Linked DNA regions of Homo sapiens: all the other regions are linked to region 2. The links come from fine-mapping of genetic effects on gene expression. A gene starts in region 2. Each other region holds a variant in brackets. All regions are shown on one strand. Distances are from middle to middle.

Region 1 (5,000 bases), 25 kb after region 2:
ATATAGGCGCATTATGCAGGAGTATTAAATTTTTAGAGAATCAAGTTTTCATTATGGCTTTTGGTGTTGATCTTTTAAAAATTAAAAGGAATTCATGAGGATTTCCCATGGGCTAAACAATACTAGGTATCTTGAGGGAGGTAAATGAGGCACAAGCTAGGCTTTTGACTTCGAACAATTTGTAATGTACCTGCTTAGATAGTATACATGGAAAGTTTAAAGTGACCTGCGACCCTGCCTGAAAACAGAAGAAATGTCTTAAAAGAGGATATCAGCATGACCTGCAGATGTCAGGGCAACAGATTTCATGAAGGAGTTGACTCTTGAACCAAGCTCCAGAGAATGAGTAGGCTCTAGCTAAGTGGCAACATGAAAGGTGAGCATACTGGGTGGGGCGGAGGATGCCGTGAGAGAAAGCTTCAAGGTTGCGTTGCTAAGTCCCTTAAGCTGCTACATTAATTGTTTTGGGTCAGAAGGCAGAGTTTGCATCCACTTGACCCATTCAGCACAAGAATGCACAACCCATCATCTCTTCTACGGCTGTTCCTTCTAAAGGGCTTCCAAACAGTGAACTGAGGTGCCTCCCTTGCATGAGGCTGAGACAGCCCCTCGAATGACCAGGCTAAGGAATAGCGAGCCTCTGTTAGAAAGCTCTAACATGTTAGGAAGCCTGGTGTTGAGAAGAGAGAAGCTTTTTCTCTGAGACTTTGAATATCATGGTCTTTGGCCAGCCAGGTCTTAGACTTTGGTTCCCTACATTTTTTTTAATACAGATAGGGTCTTGCTCTGTCACCCAGGCTGAAGTGCAGTGGCACAATCATAGCTCACTGTAACCTTGAACTCCTGGGCTCAAACAATCCTTCCTGCCGCAACCTCCTGGGTAGCTGGGACTACAGGTGCATGCCACCTTGCCCAACTAATTTGTTTTTAATTTTTTGTGTAGACGGGGTCTTGCAGTGTTGCCCAGGCTGGTCTCAAACTCCTGGCCTCAAGCTATCCTGCTACAACGGCCTCCCAACGTGCTGGGATTACAGGTGTAAGCCACTGCACCCAGCCAGTTGTCTGCCTTTTCAAGTATGAAGATACCTTTTTCTATGTCAGGAAATACTGTGTCCCTACCACTCCCTGGTCATAACAGTTGTGCTTTTATTTTTTCAGAATACTGCCAGTGCTTACTGAGCAGGTGCTGATCACTGACCCCTAAAAATAACTTGAAAGTTCTTGGGGCTCTGAGACCCACAGGTTGGGAACCACTGGTATAGGCTATTACCCAGGTGAACTCTGTTGCCATATTCAGCCCACCCTTTGCCTTTGGTCTATAGGAGCTTGTGTTTTGCTGTAGAAGGAGCAGCAGGTGTCATAGTTATTCATTATCCTCTGTCTCTAACTACACAGATCTTGGCTGTCAAGCCAACTTCACACTTCCTACTCTATAAGGAGCTGATAATTGACTTTCTCTCTTCTTCCCAATACCTGTAGATGGCCGAGACAGAGGTTCAAACCCATCCCTGGAAAGTACAAGTAGTGAGCTGAGCACAAGTACGTCAGGTATGCAGATTTCCACCAGTTGCCAACTTTGAGCAGCTTTGCCCTGATATAGAGTTGCCATACACCATGGTGTAAAGCCAGGATTGAGCAGTCAAGGTTGTTATTCAAGGTTGGCAGATGGCCAGATTTTAGCTGGGAGAAGGGAAAGGACTGTTTCATTCTCAATTTAGTTATCCAGCAACAGAGAGAAATAGAGGTAAATACCCAAAGAAGGTAGTTGGCACTTAGCATCTTCTATTCAAAGATGGTAGCATAGGTTTGCCCTTCATTTGAGGAAAAATTAAGACCTATTTACAGGCCTTTTACAGAAGGACATTGAGGAGATAAAAGTTTGGTGGGAGGTGGCAGCAATATAGCATTTCCTTAATTCCTCTTGCTTCTCTGGCCCCACACATTCTTGTGTCCCAACAGAGGGAAGTCTGAGTGCCATGTCTGGCCGGAATGAGCTGCACAGTAGATTGCACCCCCATCCTCAAAGTTCACTCATCCCCATGATGTTCTCCCCACCTGAGTCACTGCTGGCATCCTGCATCCTTCGCGGGAACTTCGCAGAAGCCCATCAGGTGAGGGGAGGCCATACCTTTTCAGCCCCTGAATGACTTAGCATCAGGTAAGGCTCGGAGCATGTACAACCAGAGCCACCTGGGAGCACTCAGGGGTCCACATCAAGCAGAAGAAGCAGAAGCAAGAGGGGGTTTCCATGTGCCCAGGCCCAGTCTTCAGCAGGGTGGATTGAAAGATAGTGAATTGTTTGTGGTTCTTAACATAAGCAGTGTTTTTAAAAGGTGAAAGAAAATATTCAGCCACACTCCCACCACTTAAAAGCATGGAAACTTTTGTTTCTCTCCTTGACTCCTTCTCTGAACATATACATGGGTTTTTGTTTGTTTGCTTGTTTGTTTGTTTGTTTGTTTGAGACAGAGTCTTGCTCTGTTGCCCAGGCTGGAGTGCTGTGGCACGATTTCTGCTCACTGCACCCTCCACCTCCCAGGTTCAAACGATTCTCCTGCCTAAGCCTCCCAAGCAGCTGGGATTACAGGTGCCCACCACACCAGGCTAATTTTTGTATTTTTAGTAGAGACAGGGTTTTGCCATGTTGGCCAGGCTGGTCTCGAACTCCTGACCTCAAGTGATCTACCTGCCTCAGCCTCCCAAAATGCTGGGATTACAGGCATGAGCCACCACACCCAGCCCATGTTTTTATCTAGTTAAAAATTATAATACAATTTCCTTTTCTTTTTTTTTTTTTTTTTTTTT[G/TTTG]AGACAGATTTGCTTTTGTCACCCAGGCTGCTGGAGTGCAGTGGCGCGATCCCAGCTCACTGCAACCTCCACCTCCCATGTTCAACCGATTCTCCTGCCTCAGCCTCCCGAGTAGTTAGGATTACAGGCATGCACCACCATATCTGGCTAATTTTTGTATTTTTAGTAGAGATGAGGTTTTGCGATGTTTGTCAGGCTGGTCTCAAACTCCTGACCTCAGGAGATCCACCCGCCTCGGCATCCCAAAATGCTGGGATTACAGGCATGAGCCATTGCGCCCAGTCTCAATTATAAATAGAATGCCAGTTCAATATACAAGAAGTATGGAGAGCTAGCAGACTAGAATATTTGTATTGTAGAGAGAAAATAGCACTGGAATGGTAATCAGAAAGACTGAACCTCTCTGAGCTTTGGTTTCCTCATTTGAAAATTGGAGTTAAATGTAATACCTGGTTTTTCTACCTCATAGGAATGTTAAGAGGATTATGTTCTAGCCGTGAGAAATATAAAAATCCTCTACTATTGATTAAACTTAATAACAAGTTATTAAACTTAATAACATAAAATAGTACTCTTCTAATTTTTAAAACCCTCTTGGCATATTAATGATACTTTTACTGGTAGTAAAGTATTTGGTAGTTTATCTACGTAACATGTAGGTCAGAATTGTTCTTTCATGTGAGTTCAGTTTTTGAGGAATAAATCTAGGGAACTCTAGGTAACAGGACAATTTTTACTTAACCTTCTCTGATCATTTTAGATCTTATACTTTAATGATAATTATAATTATGATCCTTGGAGGAGGATAGGACCCTCCCCAGCCCCAGCCTTTCTTTTTCTTTTTTTTTTTTTTTGAAGCAGAGTCTCACTTTCTCACCCAGGCTGGAGTGCAGTGGCTCGATCTCGGCTCACTGCAGTCTTTGCCTCCTGGGATCAAGCGATTCTCCTGCCTCAGCCTCCTGAGTAGCTGGGACTACAGGTGCACACCACCACTCCTGGCTAATTTTTATATTTTTAATAGAGACGGGGTTTCACCATGTTGGCCAGGCTGGTTTTGAACTCCTGACCTCAAATGATCCACCCTCCTTGGCCTCCTGAAGTGCTGGGATTACAGGCACGAGCCACCACGCCAGCCCCTCCCCAGCCTTTCTAATACTCAAATCCAGAGGAATTTAGCTAGGAGTCCCATGATATTTTACCCCTAAATGTCCTCCACTTCTCCTCCTTTTCTTGAGCCGTGGTCTTTTTTTTTTTTTTCAATAAAAACTTTTATTTTTTGACCTGGATACAGACAGAATAAGTTGTACATATACGACAATATCAGAAAGTATTAACAAGAAAATAAAATTACTTTTAACCCTATAGTATGGAACAACCAATATTAAAAATTTATTTTTTTGGCCAATATTTCTCCAAAATATGTATGACTTTTATATAGCTGAGATTATTTCAAATCTAAAACTTTATATCATGCATTTTTACATTTTAATATTAGCATTTGTCTTTTAACCTTGATTTTAGTGACCTTACAATAGTCTGATCAAGTAGCTGCATTTAACCATTTTCCTGTTGCTCAAGATTTAGATTATTTTTAACCTTGTAATAGTTGTAATATATAGTGCCAAGGTGATTACGTTTAGGCATTAAGCCTTTTGAATTATTTTTTTAAGAAAGTTCCTCATAAAAACTACTGAGTCAAAAGATGTAAACATTTTTAAAGCTTTATGGATTGCCAAATTGCTTTTCAAAAAAGTTGTGACACTTAATGTTACACCATCTCCTGAGGATTTATTTTTGTGCTTTGTTATTGTGATAGATGCAAAATGTTATTGTTACTTAAATTCCTAGATTACTGACAAGGGAAAAAATATTTTCTCATTTATATATTAGTCATATATATTTCCTCTGAAATTGTCCACATCTTTTGCCTATTTTCTACTGAGGCTTTGGTGGTTTTCTTACTTTTATGAATTATTTTTTATAGTTGACCTGCTCTTCTAACATTCAGTGCTCTTCTGACCCTACAAAGCACAAAGACATCTTAGGGCCACAGTCTAATGGTTGGCAAGATCTCCTATCCATGGACATTCCCTAAATCAGTGGGACCACCAGGGCCCACACACTCCCTCTCCTATGACAGGTGCTGTTCACGTTCAACCTGAAGTCCTCACCCAGTTCAGGGGAACTGATGTTCA
Region 2 (6,862 bases):
TAACTACAGCCATGCAGTAAGCATTACAATTGCTATTTAAAAGTGCTATGGAAGCAGACAGGAAGAAGCCCCAAATTCGCCTGCAAAAGTCAGATCAGTGTCACAATCCTGCCTTGAGTAGCTTCCTAAAAAGTCACGATTATCCTTTAACACTTCCCATGGGACTGGTAGACCACAGGATAAATTCCAAACTTCTTAGGGTCGCAGAGAAAAACATCAAAAATTGGTCCCTCACTTCCTTCTCACTCATACATCACATTGCAACGTTCAGTTCCTATCCTTCCTGGCAGTTACTTCACCTCTCAGTGTCTTAATTTCCTTAAAACCCTTGTTTTACAGTCATATGAATTTACTACTTCATATGACTGTAGTGGAGGTTAAAGGACTCGGGGAGTGCGTGGCACATAGTACTTAAGGTCAGCAATCATCATTTAATGACTCTCACATGATCTGCCCTCCAGCCACATGGTATGTGTATTGGTAGGTCACGCATCCTGTCTCCCTGACTTCCCTCCACAAAACCTTCCCCAGAGTCAAGTCTTTTCCTCTCCAATGTTCTCATCAACTTCGCACATATCTATTCGATAATCTTATCAAAATACTATTATGGCTTGCAAGTTTGTTTGCCCCCACCGGAGCACGTAAATTCCTGCGGTGTATGTGTGCGCGAAAGCACGTATGTGTATTGCACATGAGGGGAGACGGTCAACCCTGGAGAATGAACCCTGTCCTCCTTACCACCAAGAAAAGAAAATTCTTCATGTTAGATGTTCAACAACTGTTTAGGAACAATATTAGCTAATATTTATTGAGCCCTTATTACGTGCCACACTGTTCCAAAGGCTTCGGATATTTTACCTCACTTTACAGATAAGGATACTGAGGTAACTAGTTGAGAAACTTGGGCAAAGTTAAACAGCTGACAATTGGTGTGAAGCTCGCATTCGAATCCAGGGACCGGACTCCAGATTCCACGCTCTCCAACACCACCTGAAGTGGGAGAGTCCCTCAACTTCCCCTAATGACAGGCTGCCCGAAGCGGGAAGGGGCTGGGGAGGAAGATGGGCAGCAACAGGCGGAAACATCACCCAGAATCCCCTAAAAAGAGCTTTTTCCAACAATGAGCAGCTTCCAAGCATTCCCCACCAAAAGAAGGCCCGAAGCTCCCCCAATTCACAGCGGGGTTCTTAGTGACGATCCCGAGTCTTAAGGGGGCGTGACCAGCACCCAAGAGAAAATCTCCGCTCCCCCAATATCGAAACCCACGAGCCTAGGGAAGGAGCAGGAAATAATGAGCGAACCCCACTTCCCCACAACGGCACCCCACATGAAACTTTCCAGTACCGGGTCTGCAGCATCCAACTTTCAAGTTTCCCCACCCTTTACACAGTTTCCCCGCGGAAAACGCCGCAAAGCAACAACCGAAGCACTGATTGAGTCGTCATTCTGGCTACTGTATCCAATCAGAGGCCGGCAGAGGCCCAGGTTGGCTCCGCGGCTTGCTGGGAATTGTAGTTAATACTATGATCAGCCTAACAGATCGAATCTGAAGCAGTTTCTCAATATAGTGATTATCAAAATCTGTTGCAGGACCATCACCAAAGAGAATGTGAAACAAGGGAACACCCTGTTTGGAAATTTTTCTTTTTTCTTTCTTTTTTTTTTTTTTTGAGACGGGGTCTCGCTCTGTCGCCCAGGCTGGAGTGCAGTGGCGCGATCTCGGCTCACTGCAAGCTCCGCCTCCTGGGTTCACGCCATTCTCCTGCCTCAACCTCCCTAGTAGCTGGGACTACAGGCTCCCACCACCACGCCCGGCTAATTTTTTTGTATTTTTAGTAGAGACGGGGTTTCACCGTGTTAGCCAGGATGGTCTCGATTTCCTGACCTCGTGATCCGCCCGCTTCGGCCTCCCAAAGCGCTGGGATTACAGGCGTGATCCACCGCTCTCGGCCCTGGAAATCTTTTTTTTCGTGTATCATCACTTTTCACAATGGCTTAAAGGGGCCAGACGCAGTGGCTCACGCCCGTAATTTCAGCACTTTGGGAGACCGAGGCGGGAGGATCACTTGAGCCTGGGAGTTCGAGACTAGCCTTGGCAACATAGTGAGACACCCTCCCCCACCCCTCCGCCTCTACAAAAAAATACAAAAAATAGGCTGGGCGCGGTGGCTCATGCCTGTAATCCCAGCACTTTTGAAACTGCCCGATGGGTTCACCTTACCAGCTGCCTAGACAGAACCGATTTATCAGGACAGGGGAATTGCAATGCAGAAAGAGTAATTCACGCAGAGCCAGCTGTGCGGAAGACTGAAGTTTTATTGTTACTTAAATCAGTTGTCCCGAGCATTTGCGGATCGGAGTTTTTACCAATAATTTGGCTGGTAGGGGCTTAGGAAGTGGGGAGTGCTGATTGGTCAGGTTGGAGATGGAATCATAAGGGGTCGAAGTGAGGTTTTCTTAATGTCTTCTGTTCCTGGGTGTGATGGCAAAACTGGTTGCGCCAAATTACTGGTCTGAGTGGTGTCAGCTGATCCATGGAGTGCAGGGTCTACAAAATATCTCAAGCACTGATCTTAGGGCTTGCAATAGTGATGTCACCCCCGGGAGCAATTTGGGGAGGTTCAGACTCTTGGAGCCAGAGGCTGCATGACCTCTAAACTGTAATTTCTAAACTTGTAGCTAATTTGTTAGTCCTGCAAAGGCAGACTGGTCCCCAGGCAAGAAGTGGGTCTTTTCGGAAAGGGCTGTTATCAATTTTGTTTCAGAGTCAAACCATGAACTGAATTCCTCCCCAAAGTTAGTTCAGCCTACGCCCAGGAATGAACAAGGACAGCTTAACGGTTAGAAGCAAGATAGAGTCGGTTAGGTCTGATTTCTTTCACTGTCATAATTTCCTCAGTTATAATTTTGCAAAGGCGGTTTCACTTCGGAATGCTGAGGCAGGCAGATCACTTGAGCTCAGGATTTCGAAACCAGCCTGGCCAACATGGCGAAACCCCGCCTCTACTAAACATACAAAAATTAGCCAGACATGGTGGCAGGCACCTGTGATCCCAGCTACTTGGGAGGCTGAGGTGAGAGGAGCCAGACATTGCCTCAAAAAAAAAAAAAACCTTAATGGGCCAGAAAGCCATGTTACTTTTCTCAGGAATCGAGGACAATCCACCAATCACAGAAGAGTTTTTGGAAGAAAACGTTTTGTTTGTTTTAACTTGCTCTTTTCACCACCCTTTGGTGATTAAATAGTTTGGGAAATGCTGAATGAAATTACTAAACCTGAAACACACATAGTGAGGAAAGCTGAGAGTCTGTGATTAAAGCACACCAGGGAAACCAAACAAAAGGCTTGGTGTAAGGCAGCTGTGGTGAGCAAACCTAGTAAGCCGTTACTTCAAGAGTTGGTTTCAGGCTGGGAACGGTGGCTCACGCCCGTAATCCCAGAACTTTGGGAGGCCGAGGTGGGCGGATTGCCTGAGGTCAGGAGTTCGAGACCAGCCTGGCCAACATGGTGAACCCCTGTCTCTATTAAAAATACAAAAATTAGCCGGGTGTGGTGGCGCGCGCCTGTAAATCCCAGCTACTCAGTGAGGCTGAGGCAGAAGAATCGCTTATCCCAGCTACACAGTGAGGCTGAGGCAGGAGAATCGCTTAAACCCGGGAGACGGAGGTTGCAGCGAGCCGAGATCGCGCCATTGCACTCCAGCCTGGGAGACAGAGCGAGACTCTGTCTCAAAACAAAAGACTTGGTTTCAGATTATTGTGTTTGCGAAAAAGCCTTTGCTCATTCTTTGCTCTCTGATCTCTTATGCATACTTCTGTCTTATAATTTAGCCCACCGTCTCCTAATTTTTGGCCTGCATCTCCCTTGAGAAGAAGGACCTCCATTTACTCAACTTAGAGAATAGGGCCTAAGCCCGGTGTAGTGGCGCGCGCCTCTAGTCCCAGCTACTACAGGAAGGCTGAGGCTTAAGGATTACTTGATCCAGGAAGTTCGAGGCTGCCATGAGCCGAGATCACACCACCGCACTCCAGCGACAGAGAGACTCTGTCTCTAAAAAAATAAAATAAAGCCTAGCACACCGTTCAATTAACAGTTGTAGGGTAAATGTGCAAATAAATGAATGGAGTGAAGCAGAAGAATATGGAAATTCAGACCGCAGAGTTCCGGAACAAAAGAGCCCAGTAGATAGAATAATAATGGAGGAGAACCCAGTTCTCCTAGCTCCGGGTATCCCCCGCGCCTGGCAAAACACCATCACTGGTTGGCGTTCAATAAATGTTGACTTCACATGTTAAGGAGATAAGAGAGTGGAAGAAAAAAAAAAATCCAGGGTCACAGTTCTTCCTGCCACCTGCTCGGCCGAATGCAGAACTGAAAGTATTGAGCGCCGGAGCTGTCACAATTGAGGGAGATGGTCCGCAGCCAGGTAGCTGATTTCCTCTTTCCGAGCTTTCTAGCTTTCCCTACTCCCGGAGAGGTGGCGTCACGTGACTCAAACAAATATGGCACTTAATTTTCATCTTCCCTGCCTTGAGCCAATAGGAGTGGGGCTTTCAGTCTTTGTCACCACCCCCACCACCGCTGTTCGGAGTGGGTTCTGTCACCTGACTCGGCTCAAACATGGCTGCGCTGAGAGCTCTATTGCTTTGGGCGCCGGGAGCAGGTGAGTGTAAGACACCCCTGAGAGGGAGGGGCCCCTCTCCACGACCCCCGCAGAGAGCGTCCCTGCGGCCCACCCCCACACTGCTTTCCACTTATGACACAGATTCGTCTCCTGGTCGTCAATCCTCTGCCTTAACAGAGGGCTCAAACTAGGGAGGTTCCTGCTGAATTTCTCATTCTTGAGGAGGCGACCACCTGGGGATTTGGAGTCAAGACTGGGCATAACGTTCAGTAGGGAATACGGACGTAGAGTTATGGGTCTGCGCCCGGAGCAAATATGACTATTAATATTATTAAATATAGGAATCCGCGTGAAGAGATGGGATCCACCCCTTGAAGAAAGTGTTTTCAAAAAGTAACGTGGGAAATTAAACTGAAAACGATACTTAGGCAAGCAAGTCCCGCCTTTCCCAGGCGGACCAGTAGTTGCTGCTTTGTCTTAATACAGTGCCTTCTGTTTCTTCTCACTGGCGTTGTGTTGTTTCTAGGAGGTACTCCGCGAATGAGAACATTGAGAATGTGTTCGGCATAACTCATTTCTTTGTATCTCCCTGCACTCTGTGCTGGGAAAATGAATCATCCATTTGGAAAAGAGGAAGCTGCTTCGCAGAAGCAGCTTTTTGGATTTTTCTGCGAATGCCTGCGGAGGGGAGAATGGGAGCTGGCACAGGCATGTGTACCTCAGCTACAGGAGGGACAAGGGGATATCCCAAAGAGGGTAGAAGACATACTTCAGGCATTGGTGGTGTGTCCAAATCTGCTGAGGTAAGGGATCTCTTTTCCTACCAGACGGTCCCAGGGTGAGAGACATGTGGTTCAATATTTGGGCATTGGTCAATGTGCCCCCACTCAACTACCCTCTGAAGAATAAGCAGAGGCACAGTGTATTTCACGTGCTCTGAAATTTTACCTCTATAGTATACATCCATTACTTAGTCAATATTGGCTTTTGATTATCATCTGCAACTGAATGTAAGCCTGGCTGCCAAAGTGTGCCTGAAACTGCCATTTCTTGTTTATCCTCGTTAATATAGATGGTGGAACTGCATTGAAAACTATTTTCTTTGCCTCCAAAAAAGCAAACCCTGCTCTCTTCTTGCTTATGAGATTGAAAATATTGTTGTCGCTTTACTTAAAACTTTTTATTTCGAAATAATTGCAGTCTCACAAGAAGCTGCAAAAATAATGGAGTCCAGCGTATCCTTTTCCCAGTCTGCCCCAATTGCGACGTCTCATACAGCTGTAGTACAATATCAAAACCATGAAATTGACATTGGCACATTACTTTAAATGACACTACAGAGTTTATTTGGTTTTCAGCATTTTCTTAATCTGCCTTCATTTTTTCATTTGTAGTTTTATGCAGTTTTATCCATATATAGATTCATGTAATCCCACTGTAATAAGGATCAGAACTGTTCCATTACCACAAAAGAATTCCCTCACTCCTTGGTGCTACCTCTTTGTATTTATACAACAACCCCTCCTTGTTCCCTGGCAACCACAGTTCTCCATCCTTGATTTTCAATGAAGTTCCTCCTGGTGATGCTAGTAACCACTGGTGATGTAGGAGTCAAATGTACCGTTTTAAGTCTTTCCTTGGGTTTTCCTTCCTTTGACTGTTATGCTATACTGTTTACATATTGTATTAGCACATATACGATGGAGAAACTTAAGTGATCCCTTCCTTTTCTTTTTCTCCTTTAATTTGAGATCTAGCCAGTTACCGTCTAAATTCCTAACTTCAAAGAAAGGCTTATGAATTCCTAAAGTCCTGTTTTTAGCATATAGTTAAAAATAAATTTGTATGAAGTTCCTTTTTTAAGACTGTCTGATTCACTTTCTGTATTAAAAATATGCTTCAGATAGTATTAGCTATTATGGTTTTCTCGAATATTATTTTATTTTAAACTAAGATAAGGAGGTGGAGGTGAGATTAAGGCTTTTTATGAAAGCTGCTAGCTCTGTTCTGGTTCTGATTTGTTTGTTTGTTTGTTTGTTTGTTTGTTTGTTTTGGAGACAGAGTCTTGCTCTGTCACCCAGGCTGGAGTGCAGTGGCATGATCTAGGCTCACTGCAACCTCCGCCTCCCAGGTTCAAGCGATTCTCCTGCCTCAGCCTCCCGAGTAGCTGGGACTACAGGCGCCTGCCACCGCACTTGGCTAATTTTTGTATTTTTAGTAGAGATGGGGTTTCATTA
Region 3 (6,881 bases), 640 kb after region 2:
TAGGCTGAGTGTGGTGGCTCATGCCTGTAACTCCAGCACTGTGGGAGGCTGAGATGGGCGGATCACTTGAGCCCAGGTGTTCAAGACCAGCCTGTCTCTGCAAAATATAAAAAAATTAGCCAGGTGTGATGGGTAGTCCCAGCTACTCAGGAGGCTGAGATGGAAGGATCACTTGAGCCCAGGGAGGTCAAGGCTGCAGTGAGTTGAGATCATGCCACTGCACTCCAGCCTGGGCGACAGAGTGAAACCCTATTAAAAAAAAAAAGAAAAGAAAAACAGAATAGATGTGGGGCACGGTGGCTCACGCCTGTAATCCCAGCGGATCACCTGAGGTCAGGAGTTTGAGACCAGCCTGGTCAAAATGGTGAAACCCCATCTACACTAAAAATAGAAAAATTAGCTGGGCCTGGCGGTGCATGCCTGTAATCCTAGCTACTTGGGAGGCTGAGGCAGGAGAATTGCTTGAACCCGGGAGGTGGAGATTGTAGTGAGCTGAGATCGCGCCACTGCACTCCAGCCTGGGTGACAAGAGCAAGACTCCACCTCAAAAAATAAAAATAAAAATAAAAATAATAAAAGAATATAGACTGTAGAGTCAGATTGCTAAACTTGAATCCTTGCTCTCTCTCCTACTATCTATGTGACCATGGACAAGTTTCTTAATCTCTGTGCCTCAGTATCCTCATCTATAATACAGGAAAAACAATGCTTATAGGGTTGTGAAAATTGAACATATGTAAAGTGTTTAGGACAATGCCTGGCCTACAGTAAGTTCTACATAATGTGTTTTATTGAGCAAATATTTACTGATGCTTGCATATATGCACATATGCCAGACTCTTCTAGGAATTTGGGGATAACTGGAGTGAACAAAATAAACAAAAATCTCTACCTTTGTGGAGCTTAATACATGACAAGCACTGCTCTCAGCACATTTCATATGTTTAATTTCCACGACACCCCTATAATTGTTGTTCTTCTTATATTACAGGTATAGAAATTATCCTATAATAAAATAATTATCATTAATTACCTGTCATTCTCTGTTTTTGGAATACTCTTTTTCCTGTGCTATCATCTTCAAAATTCTACCTTCCTTCAAGACCCAATAGCATCAGCTGGGCATGGTGTCTCACAACTGTAATTCCAGCACTTTCGGAGTCTGATGCAGGAGGATCACTTGAGGCCAGGAGTTCGAGGCTGTAGTGCACTAGGACCATGCTACTGCACTCTATCCTGAGCAGTAGAGCAAGACTGTGCCTCTACAAAAAAAAAAAAAAAAAAAGACCCACTAACATGCCATCTTACTCCTTGAAATCTCATCTGAATTCTTCCAACCCTTAAAATCTGTATTATGGCATTTATCACATTCTATACACTCTACTATATATTATCAAATATATTAAATATCGTGGTTATTTGCTTGCATTTTGTTATCTCCCTAATGAAGTGTAAGGTCAGGTGCTCTGCCCTATTCATGTTTGTAAATAGTAGCATGATATACTTTGTACCCAAGCACATAATAGATGCTTAACAAATATTTCTTGAATGAATGTACATAAAAGGATTATTTGCATACTCTTTCATTTGACCTCTATTAACTAACCTTATCTTCTTCAACTGTAAATATGAATGAAAATATCACATATCAGTATCAAATATTTGTTTACTATTTTGCCTTTATTTACCATCCCTTGACATTTTGTTTACTAGTAGGCCAATTTTTGTAGTTTGCTTTCCTGAGCACATTTTACAGTATATTTAACATCTTCCTGTTACCACCATTTGAAAAGTGCCCCTAAGTTTTTATTAAAGGATCCATTGTGGATACAGTATATTTTACCTATTGTGTTTTCTATGGTCAGCACAGATATTTTTTGCCATTTCTCACTTCCTTTCTAACACGGTTAAAAATTTCGAGGCGCTCATCTGTAATTTTTTGTTTCATTGCTTATTTTTTTCTCCATTTCAAAGAACTGTAGATGTTTGAAATTGGATTTTATGGCGTCTAAAATAAGAATTATTTTTTTTCTAAGTCATTAGTACCCTTCCTCTAAATTTGCTTGCTATTCTCCAGCTATGACTGGAAAGACGAGACCAACTGCAGGTTCTCCTTCCTTCTCATCTGTATTTTCACACACTACAGATCATAATGCTATGATCACATTTTTCCCCACATATTGTAGTAAGATACAGAGTTACAATATACCATATTTTAAATATTCTTGGTAGGCCATCTTAACCATTTCTTTTATTCAGGCAGAACCCTATCAGAATGGCATGACAATCTTCTCTCTTTAAATAACGAGGCCAACACATTACATTTTTAAATAATGATCAAGGAATTTTTTTATTCATTAAGTTTCAGTATCATTACAGAAAATGTTATGGTACAGAATTGTTTAACATTATTTTGTCTTTGCTCTTGATTTCCACATGAATGCTGGTAACACTAATATCTGTACAAGATCAGTCTTTGATTTTATTTTTTTGTTCTGTACAATTTTAAATGTATTGGTTAAAAAGGCTGTCAGCACTTAAGGAAGCATTTTTTCTTCAGTTTGTTTCTTCAAATAAAAGGTGTCCAGTTACTGCCCAAGAGTACTGTGCCGTGAGGCTATTGGGGCGAGAAACCTCCCTGGATGCTCTGCAGGGGATGGTTCTTGAGGCAAGGCAGAGCCTCCACCCAGTCAGTCTTCTTTTGGCACTGTGCACATAAACACGAGATACATGAGAAAGAACAAGCAAAAGCTCTCTGTAAA[G/A]CAGTTATGAAGCATACTAAGAAGGGAAATCCAAGTGTTGCCTACGCTAGTATAAATAAGCAGACAGCCTTGATTTAAGAGCATAAGTAGTTGTATTTTAAAGATGAGAAAAACACAAGTTCTGCAGGCACCTACCGCTGTCTACTAAAAGCTATCGCTATCAGACCTAGCATTGAACACACAAAGCAATTTGCAAGAAAGGAAAAATTTGCCTTGATATAATCAGAACAGAATTTTCTGTTAAGATTTATTTTTAGGTGTTTTTTTCTTTAAAAGATATTTAAATTCATTTGAAATATAGTTCAAGATGTTGACTATACAGATCAACTTTTATCCAAATCGGGAAAACTAGCTGTGCCGTTGCATATTACAGGATACAGTCAATGATATGTGGACATGCATCAAAGCTTTCTCCTGCTGGTGACCATCATAGCCGTCCAATGACCATGACATCCACCACCTCGCCTTTGTGGAGCTCCACGTACTGTTCTGTCTTTGGAGGTAGCATCAACAATCCATTGGCACTGCGCATGCTCATCAGACGGCTGCTCATTTGATTACCTAGAAAGAAATACTCTTATTACAGCAGCATAAGCATCATGGCGTATACAGTTGGGCCCTTGTAGACCTTTTCAAAATGTAAACAGACAGAAATGCGGGTCTTCAAGAGGAGAAGGGATGATCAAACTTTCCAGTACCTTTTTCAGGTGGCCATGCTATTATATCCTACCACCTTCTCATTCAAACTTTAAAAATAAACATTAGAAATTCTTGCTTGAAAGAGTAAAACCAGGATTTTATAGCATTATGCAAAATGCCATAGAATTTCTCAATTCAGGCTGAAATGTTATGCGTGTCTGAAAAGGGAGGCTTTAAAAAAAGTATTAAAATAATAATGACAATAATGGTAGCAGCTACCATTTCTTTACTGAGTGCCAAAGTACTAGGCACTTTACTTAAACACCTTATTTGATTCTCACAAGACTCAAAAAATTTTTAGGTAACTTGCCTAGGGTCCTGCTAAGTAGGTTGGTGGCCAGTTTGAATGCAGTTCTCTCTGATGGCAAAGCCCATGAACTTAGTCGCTGTTAGTTGACGTTTTCACTTGGTAGGATCTTTGTTTAAAGAGTACTACAACTTTTCTGGAGTCACATCAAAAATTAGGCAAAATATGAGTAGGGAAGTTGGGAATAACAGTTTAAAGTCTAGTGAAGGTTACTGTAGAACTCTGCATTATCAATATTGATTTCTCTGCCCTTCAAATTTACCAATAACTAGCGTATGGTAGAGGCTACAGAGAATCAAATTATAAATTGGGCTTTCATCTCACATTTCAAGATGGTATAGCTAGAATCTCCTCCTTTTCCTACAAAGTTATACTCAGAACTTATTGGTTGAACAAACATATCAAATCTTCTGTAATTCCAGATTTATTACAGGACATTAGTCAATGATATGTGGACATTCTAAATGTTTATCTAGAAAATATGGCTCAATAAAATAAGTAAACTTCTAATAGTTATTTTTTAACTTTTGCTATACTGTTTAGGAATAACTTAACTCATCTAACTTTTCAAAAAGAAAAATGTATAATAATTACAAAATCAGTCATAACCAAGGAAGATTATATATAAGTTTGTGTTTTAACAGGATAGGTGTCTAGGAATATCTGTAGATGTGAATGACTAACCTGTACTCTGTGCCCAAGGTAGTGGTTCTTGGTGATGCCAAGTTAGTATACACCGATGGTATTCTGGACGAGGATCAAGTTTTACATCACATGATAACTACAGAATAAAGTAGAAAAGAAAACAAACTTGGTCACCTGATCATCTCACAAAAATACAAGATAGTAGGGGTTGTGCAAAGAATACAGTGGACATGGAGACTAACCTTGGTATTCTGTCGTTGCTGTCACTACCACCTTATGTTCTTTTTCTTTTTAAATAAAATTTAATTAAAAATGTATTTTTTCTTTTGACACAAGGTCTCACTCTGTTACCCAGGCTGGAGTGCAGTGGCATGATCATAGCTCACTGCAGCCTTGACCTCCTGGGCTCCAGTGATCCTCCTGCCTTGGCCTCCTGAGTAGCTGGGACCACATGCATGTGCCACCATACCTGAATAATTTTTATTTTTATTTTTAGAGATGGCATCTTGCTATGTTGCTCAGGCTGGTCTTGAACTCCTGGGCTCAAGCGATCCTGCCACCTGGGCCTCCCAGAGTGCTGGAATCATAGGCATGAGCCACCATGCCTGGCCACCTTATATTCTTAATACAGGAAGTCTAGGGGTTGGGTTGCTCTGGTGAAAAGAGAAAAGAAGGCTAAGAAGCTGGAGTTCAGCTTTTGTCTGTCTGGGAAAGGCTTTATTTCTCCCTCATTCCTGAAGGATAGCTTTGCTGCATATAGTATTTCTGGTTGGCATTTTTTTTTTCTTTCAGCACTTTACATACATCATTCCCTTCCCTTCTGGCCTTAAGGTTTCTGCAGATAAATCTACTGCTAGTCTAATGTGGACTTCCTTGTATGTGACTTGATGCTTTTCTTTTGCTGTTATTATAATTCTTTGTCTTTAACTTTTGACAAATTGGGAAGGATCTTTTGGGTTGAATACATTTGGAGACCTTTGAACTTCCTGGATCTGGATGTCTATATCTCTCAACAGATTTGGGAAGTTTTTCAGCTAGTATTTCATTAAATAAATTTCCTATCCTCTTTCCCTTCTCTTCTTCTTCTGGACTCTGATGATAAAAATATTTGTTGATTCAAATTCAGGAAATACAGAGAACACCACAAGGATATTCCTCCAGAAGAGCAACCCCAAGGCACATAATCGTCAGATTCACCAAGGTTGAAATGGAGGAAAAAATGTTAAAGGCAGCCAGAGAGAAAGGTCGGATTACCCACAAAGGGAAGCCCATCAAAATAACAGTGGATCTCTCAGCAGAAACCCTACAAGCCAGGAGACAGTGGGGGCCAATAATCAACATTCTTAAAGAAAAGAATTTTCAACCCAGAATTTCATATCCAGCCAAACTAAGCTTCATAAATGAAGGAGAAATAAAATCCTTTACAGACAAGCAAATGCTGGGAGCCTTGTCATCACCAGGCCTGCCTTACAAGAACTCCTGAAGGAAGCACTAAACATGGAAAGGAATAATTGGTACCTGCCACTGCAAAAATATGCCAAATTGTAAAGATCATTGATGCTATGAGGAAACTGCATCAACTAATGGGCAAAATAACCAGCTAGCATCATAATGACAGGATCAAATTCACACATAACAATATTAACCTTAAATATAAATGGGCTAAATGCCCCAATTAAAAGATACAGACTGGCAAATTGGACAGTCAAGACCCATCGGTGTGCTGTATTCAGGAGACCCATCTCACATGCAAAGACACAAATAGGCTCAAAATAAACATTTGGAGGAAGATCTAACAAGCAAATGGAAAGCAAAAAACAGCAGGGGTTGCAATCCTAGTCTCTGATAACCAACAAGGATCAAAAGAGACAAAGAAGGCCATTACTTAATGGTAAAGGGATCAATTCAACAAGAAGAGCTAACTATCCTAAATATATATGCACCCAATACAGGAGCCCCCAGATTCATAAAGCAAGCTCTTAGAGACCTACAAAGAGACTTAGACTCCCACACAATAATAATGGGAGACTTTAACACCCCACTGTCAATATTAGACAGATCAACAAGACAGAAAAGTAACAAGGATATCCAGGACTTGAACTCAGCTTTGGACCAAGCAGACCTAATAGACATCTACAGAACTCTCCACCCCAAATCAACAGAATGTACATTCTTCTCAGCAACACATCGCACTGATTCTAAAATTGACCACATAATTGGAAGTAAAACACTCCTCAGCAAATGCAAAAGAACAGAAATCACAACAAACTGTCTCTCAGATCACAGTGCAATCAAATTAGAACTCAGGATTAAGAAACTTACTCAAAACCACACAACTACATGGAAACTGAACAACCTGCTCCTGAATGACTACTGGGTAAATAATGAAATGAAGGCAGAAATAAAGATGTTCTTTGAAACCAATGAGAACAAAGACACGACATACCAGAATCTTTGGGACACGTTTA

Alleles and levels. Alleles are on the strand shown, and positions count from the first base shown. SD is a standard deviation of normalised expression in the study named. Not every link is listed here.
With allele A in place of G in region 3, the expression in neutrophils of the gene that starts at base 4,608 in region 2 is lower (large effect, 1.5 SD a copy in BLUEPRINT).

Evidence for each region. PIP is the estimated chance that this variant, and not a neighbour inherited with it, causes the effect.
Region 1: its variant is the best candidate, but not a certain one, in a credible set for the expression of ZFYVE26 in whole blood (INTERVAL, PIP 0.53).
Region 3: its variant is the best candidate, but not a certain one, in a credible set for the expression of ZFYVE26 in neutrophils (BLUEPRINT, PIP 0.73).

What each region holds. Positions count from the first base shown.
Region 1 is chr14:67,790,719-67,795,718 of GRCh38, reverse strand. ZFYVE26 (zinc finger FYVE-type containing 26) reads left to right here. Exons shown (of 42, transcript NM_015346.4): 13 at 1,480-1,548; 14 at 1,960-2,111; 15 at 4,946-5,000. Among named protein-coding and RNA genes, the nearest start is that of ZFYVE26, 23 kb to the left of the region's middle. The variant G/TTTG (reference allele first, on the strand shown) is at 2,806.
Region 2 is chr14:67,814,336-67,821,197 of GRCh38, reverse strand. It overlaps ZFYVE26 (zinc finger FYVE-type containing 26), which reads left to right and starts at 4,608. Exons shown (of 42, transcript NM_015346.4): 1 at 4,608-4,664; 2 at 5,152-5,428. The coding sequence starts at 5,235. It overlaps RAD51B (RAD51 paralog B), which reads right to left and starts at 1,419. Exons shown (of 11, transcript NM_133510.4): 1 at 1,345-1,419. RefSeq lists enhancers at 271-1,032, 1,292-1,586, 4,077-4,176, 4,227-4,396.
Region 3 is chr14:67,177,246-67,184,126 of GRCh38, reverse strand. GPHN (gephyrin) reads right to left here. Exons shown (of 23, transcript NM_020806.5): 22 at 4,453-4,549; 23 at 2,324-3,323. The coding sequence ends at 3,190. The region is part of intron 1 of LOC105370538 (a long non-coding RNA gene); the gene reads left to right. Among named protein-coding and RNA genes, the nearest start is that of GARIN2, 8.8 kb to the left of the region's middle. The variant G/A (reference allele first, on the strand shown) is at 2,763.